Regions from separate parts of the Homo sapiens genome. Here region 2 is linked to region 1. The links come from fine-mapping of genetic effects on gene expression. A gene starts in region 1. The other region holds a variant in brackets. All regions are shown on one strand. Distances are from middle to middle. Region 1 holds the start of PELP1 (proline, glutamate and leucine rich protein 1). Region 2 overlaps LOC105371499 (a long non-coding RNA gene).

Region 1 (2,907 bases):
AACAGATAGGGTTATCTGTGATAAATCTGGGGCTAAGGTTATTGACCCACCCAGCAAATTGTGACAACCATCTTCCTGGAAGGTAGCATAGAGCTAGGAAGGTCCCAGGAATGAAGGGTGGACACAGAAGATCTCGTGTTTATGGGTCTTGAAGGATGGGTAGAATTTGGGGGAGGTTTAGTGGGAGAGAAGGGAAGATAGGAGATTGTTATAAGGAGCAGCTATTATGGGCTAGAAATATGCCTTCTTAGAATCAGTGCCTTCACCCGGACAAGATGGTGGGGGTTCAAGCTAGAATGGGAGCAATGAGAAAGATGGAAAAGAGTGGACAGATCTGAAAACTACTCAAAGGATAAAATCAACAGGACTTGACAGATTGCTTATGGAGGTGTATGAAGAAGAGTTTAGAATTACTTGAGTGTCTAGCTTGCAGAACTGAATGGTTATCAGATTCCATTCTTATAGAAGTCCAAAGGCTCCTAACCCGGCCTAAAACGCTCTGCATGACCCGACCACTGCCTACCCATCTCACCAGTCTCATCTGTACCCACTCTCTTCCCCTCCACATCTGAGCCCCAGGAACGATGCCCTTCTTTCCAGTTCCTTCCTACCACAGGGTCTTCCCACATGAGCTCTCCTCTGACTGAACAGCCCCTCCCATATTTTTTCCCTACCCAACCCCTATTCATCCTTAGGGTCTCAGCTTAAACGCCGGTTTCTTTGGAAAAATCTCTGCCAGTCTTCAGATAAGGTTAGAGACCCCTGATATTCAATTCTCATCTTGTTTCGCAGCATTTTGTGTATCGCCACCACGTCTGTAACCGGAGCGCCTAGTACAGTATCTGACCCTCAATAAGAGCTCGGTAAATGTTTATTGTTGAATGCGTCATTCAGTCAGTCGAAACAATCCCCGAAACAGATATTGCCAGAGGAAAAAGAGACTTTTAGATTATACAACTAGTGAGTGACCGGGCCTGGAACCTAATCGATTCCTGTGTGCCGACCAATAGCCTAACAACAGAAAAATAAGGCCCATTTTTCCCCTGGAGAAACTCATGGCCGATAAAGGAGAAATACGTGCATCCCGTCCGGACTGATACCTGGATCCCCTTTCTGCCCGCAGCTCTCCTTCCTTCAACCTCCCTATCGCACTTGCACTGCACCGTAATCCCGGCGCACAGGTGCCGCGCCATCCTCCCCACAGGGCCGCGGGCACGCGGGCCACGGACTCACCTGGGCCCCGCCCACCGACCCATGCAGCCGCAATAGGCACATGAGCCCGGGCAAATGTGGGGCCGAGCGGTTTGGGGGATGCACCGGAGCAACGGCAGACCCCGTTCGAGGTTGCAGCAAACCAGAAACACTCTCCAGCAGCAGCAGGCGGAGCCGCGGGCCCGAGCTCACTGCCGAGAGACCCCCGGTCCCGCCAGGAACCCCAGCCGCGGAGCCCGCAGAGGGCCCACTCAGAACGGCTGCCGCCATCTTCCCCCGGGTTCCAGTGGTGGCGTGGCGCGATGACGCAAACACACCGCGACGGCCGCCTACTGGGGAGGGGGCGTGGGGAGGGGGCTGCGGTCTTGCGCACTGAGTGAAGGCAGGCTGGACTCGCGGGCTCAAGCTGGGAAGGAGCATGCGCGGAGAGAGCAGCCTGGGCGCCGAGGCAGCGGGGTGCTCGGTTCCCGGAGTGATGGCGGATGAGGCTGCCTGTGAGCGTGTCCGAGGCGGTCCTGTGATGTTAAAGGTACACGTGGTCCGGACAAAAGGCGCCAAAGTCGGAACGATTTCCATTTAGCGGACGGAGTCTTGGGACATCTTCGCTGTAGGAATCAATAACTCTCATTTTTTTTTTTTGAGACGGAGTCTCGCTCTGTGGCCCAGGCTGGAGTGCAGTGGCGCGATCTCGGCTCACCGCAACCTCCACCTTCCAGGTTCAAGCGATTTCCCTGCCTCAGCCTCCCGAGTAGATGGGATTACAGTCGCGCGCCACCACGCCCGGCTAATTTTTTTTGTATTTTTGTAGAGATGGGGTTTCACCATGTTGGCCAGGATGGTCTTGAACTCCTGACCTCAGGTGTTCCGCCCGCCTTGGCCTCCCAAAGTGCTGAGATTACAGGCATGAGCCACCGCACCCTGCCTAGGAATCAGTAACGTGTGTGTGTGTGTACGCGCGCCAAAGATTTATTTCTTCATTTCTTGCATTTCAAGTACTCTTCGATGTCATCCTTGGCCTGAGACTCCTTGCCATAGTCCTTAACTACTACACAACTGCAACCAACCACTTTACGGGGTTTCCCCTCTCTGTCGATTTTTACAGAGCCCTACCCATTCTCCTAGTTTCTTGTTGTCATCAACCTTAATTAGGTTGATTTGGTGTTCAGCACAAAGGCCTCCACCAACTTGACATACATAGTAGGCTCATCATAGTTGGATGCAAGCACACAAAGATGGGCTTGGCGTTTGTCTAAGGCTTTGGCAGCTTCGCGAATTCCACGTGCTAGGTCATGGTGGATGAGAGCGGTCTTCAGCACCTCTTGTGAAGCAGTATTAACATCCATTACCCCTCCAGCAGCAATGCCTTCCTCGGCCGTGGCGGTGGGTTACAAGTGAAGCTGAATCTTGAAGGTACCCAAGCCTCCGCCTCCGCGCAACTCGGCAGCGGCAGGGAAAGAGAAGGAATCAATAACTCTCTAGGTAACTTGAAATCACAGACATTTTTAACTACATTTGCAACTTCAGAAATGATACAAGACGTGCGCCTTGCAAAAGCCAATTCAAACAGTACAGAAAGGCATAAAGTAAAAAGAAAAACTGCTCCTCCCCCGCAAAGCCCTGCCCCAGTAGCGTGTATACTTTCCTAATATTAGTCTATGCACAAGCACATAAATGAATATTTTACAAGATTGGGGT
Region 2 (2,907 bases), 48 kb before region 1:
AGGGTTCGAGACCAGCCTCACCAACATGGAGAAACCCCGTATCTACTAAAAATACAAAATTAGTTGGGCATGGTGGTCCATGCCGGTAATTCCAGCTACTCATGAAGGCTGACGCAGGAGAATCACTTGAACCTGGGAGGCAGAGATTGTGGTGAGCCGAAATCACGACATTGCACTCCAGCCTGGGCAACAAGAGCAAAACTCCGTCTCCAAAAAAAAAAAAAAAAAAAAAAAAAAAAAAAAAAAAGCCAGACGCCGTGGCTCATGCCCATAATCCCAGCCCTTGGGAGGCCAAGGCAGGCAGATCACCCGAGGTCAGGAGTTCCAGACCAGCCTGCTCAACATGGTGAAACCCCGTCTCTACTAAAAATACAAAAATTAGCTGGGCGTACTGCCACGCACCTGTAATCCCAGCTACTGGAAAGGCTGAGGCAGGAGAATCGCTTGAACCTGGGAGGCGGAGGTTGCAGTGAGCCAAGATTGCGCCATTGCACTCCAGCCTGGGCAACAGAGTAAGACTTCATCTCAAAAAAAAAATTGTTTTAAATATATAAACTCGTAAGAAAAAAGACAGTAGGAGAGATTACAACTGCAGATGAGATTTAACAGATTTTGTCACCTGGAAGCAGCCAGGTGATAACCGACTTAACAGATTAGAAAATGATGAGAACGGTGGGCCCAAAATTGGTGGATTCTTGGGCTCACCGACTTCAAGCATGAAACCGCGGACCCTCGCAATGAGTGTAGCAATTCTTAAAGGCAGCGTGTCCGGAGTTCGTTCCTTCTAATGTTTGGACGTGTTGGGAGTTTTTTTCCTTCTGGTGGGTTGGTGGTCTCGCTGGCTCAGGAGTGAAGTTACAGACCTTCGCGGTGTTACAGCTCTTAAGGCAGCGCGTCTGGAGGAGTTGTTCCTCCTGGTCTCGCGGTTCAGGAGTGAACCTGCAGACCTTCGCGGTGAGCGTTACAGCTCATAAAAGCAGTGTAGACCCAAACAGCGACCAGACTTACTACAAACAGCACAAACAAACAAACAAAAAATACAAAGAACAAAACAAAAAAACAACACGCACACACGTGTTCCAGCTTGTTGTTTCTGCGACCTCGGGCAGCCTGCTTTTATTCTCTTATCTGGCCCCACCCACATACTGCTGATTGGTCCATCTTACAGAGAGCTGACTGGTCCGTTTTACAGAGAGCTGATTGGTCTGTTTTCACAGGGTGCTGATTGGTGCATTTACAATCCCTGAGCTAGACACAAAAGTTCTCTATGTCCCCACTAGACTAGCTAGATACGGAGTGTGGACACAAAGGTTCTCCAAGTCCCCACCAGAGTAGCTAGATACAGAGTGGATTGGTGCATTCACAAACCCTGAGCTAGACACAGGGTGCTGATTGGTGTGTTTACAAACCTTGAGCTAGATACAGAGTGCCGATTGGTGTATTTACAATCCCTTAGCTAGACATAAAGGTTCTCCAAGTCCCCACCAGACTCAGGAGCCCACCTGGCTTCACCCACCCGGT[G/A]GGTGGGTCCCGCAGCAGGCCGCACGTGGAGCTGCCTGCCAGTCCCGCGCCATGCGCCCGCACTCCTCAGCTCTTGGGTGGTCGATTGGACTGGGCGCCTTGGAGCAGGGGGCAGCGCTCGTCGGGGAGGCTCGGGCCGCACAGGAGCCCACGGAGCGGGGGTGGGGAGGCTCAGGCACGGCAGGCTGCAGGTCCCGAGCCCTGCCCCACGGGAAGGCAGCTAAGGCCCGGCGAGAAATTGAGCACAGCAGCTGCTGGCCCAGGTACTAAGCCCCTCACTGCCCGGGCCGGGGGCGCCGGCCAGCCGCTCCGAGTGCGGGGTCCGCCGAGCCCACGCCCACCCGGAACTCACGCTGGCCAGCAAGCACCGCGCGCAGCCCCTGTTCCCGCTCGCGCCTCTCCCTCCACACCTCCCCGCAAGCTGAGGGTGCCGGCTCCGGCCTTGGCCAGCGCAGAAAGGGGCTCCCGCAGTGCAGCGGCGGGCTGAAGGGCTTCTCAAGCAAGGCCAGAGTGGGCGCCAAGGCCGAGGAGGCGCCGAGAGCTGCCGGCACGCTGTCACCTCTCAACGAGATGTGCTGGGGGGCAGAGCTGGGGTTGTGAGACCACCAAAATGCATGCCAGTTCCTGACGCAGTGTTACCGAGTGAAAGGGCTCGCTGCCCCATGCACTAGAAGCCGATACTATGGCACCAGGTTTTTGAGAAAACGAAAGCTTGTTATCGCAGTTCGACCAACAAGGAGACAGAAGTCCAGCTCAAATCTTTCTGTGCCAGCTTTAAGGCAGTGTCTTCATTAGAAAATGTTTAAGCCGGGCGCGGTGGCTCACGCCTGTAATCCCAGCACTTTCCGAGGCCAAGGCGGGCGGATCACGAGGTCATGAGATCGAGACCATCCTGGCTAACACGGTGAAACCCCATCTCTACTAAAAAATACAAAAAAATTAGTGGTGGCAGACGCCTGTATTCCCAGCTACTCGGGAGGCTGACGCAGGAGAATGGCGTGAACCCGGCAGGCGGAGCTTGCAGTGAGCGGAGATCGCACCACTGCACTCCAGCCTGGGCGACAGAGCGAGACTCCCGTCTCAAAAAAAAAAAAAAAATGTTTAGCGGGTGGATTCTGAGATGAATAGGTGATTAGTGGAAGGGAAGGAAAGGTCTGGAAAGTCCTCGGGCCTCCACAGTGGTATCTTCATGCCTCTTCATGGGTCATAGGTGCAAATTTGGGGGGCGCTAGTGTGAAAGGTGCAGTGGAAAGGCTGTGAGGTCAGCGGGCTCATTCTGCATAGACTCCAGCTGGCCATATGGATTCCAACTGATTTCAGCCAGTTTTTTTAATCTCATAAGCAGAGGAAGTTTCAGCATTTCAGCAAGAGGTTTCTTTTCTTATC

The links. PIP is the estimated chance that this variant, and not a neighbour inherited with it, causes the effect. A credible set is the group of variants that fine-mapping cannot tell apart.
Region 2: its variant is the best candidate, but not a certain one, in a credible set for the expression of PELP1 in whole blood (TOPMed, PIP 0.53).

Annotation. Positions count from the first base shown.
Region 1 is chr17:4,702,630-4,705,536 of GRCh38, forward strand. It overlaps PELP1 (proline, glutamate and leucine rich protein 1), which reads right to left and starts at 1,508. Exons shown (of 17, transcript NM_014389.3): 1 at 1,234-1,508. The coding sequence starts at 1,482. PELP1-DT (PELP1 divergent transcript) reads left to right here and starts at 1,601. Exons shown (of 2, transcript NR_103482.1): 1 at 1,601-1,741; 2 at 2,570-2,900. It also overlaps the pseudogene RPS12P29.
Region 2 is chr17:4,654,969-4,657,875 of GRCh38, forward strand. The region is part of intron 2 of LOC105371499 (a long non-coding RNA gene); the gene reads left to right. Among named protein-coding and RNA genes, the nearest start is that of ALOX15, 15 kb to the left of the region's middle. RefSeq lists an enhancer at 1,926-2,095. The variant G/A (reference allele first, on the strand shown) is at 1,522.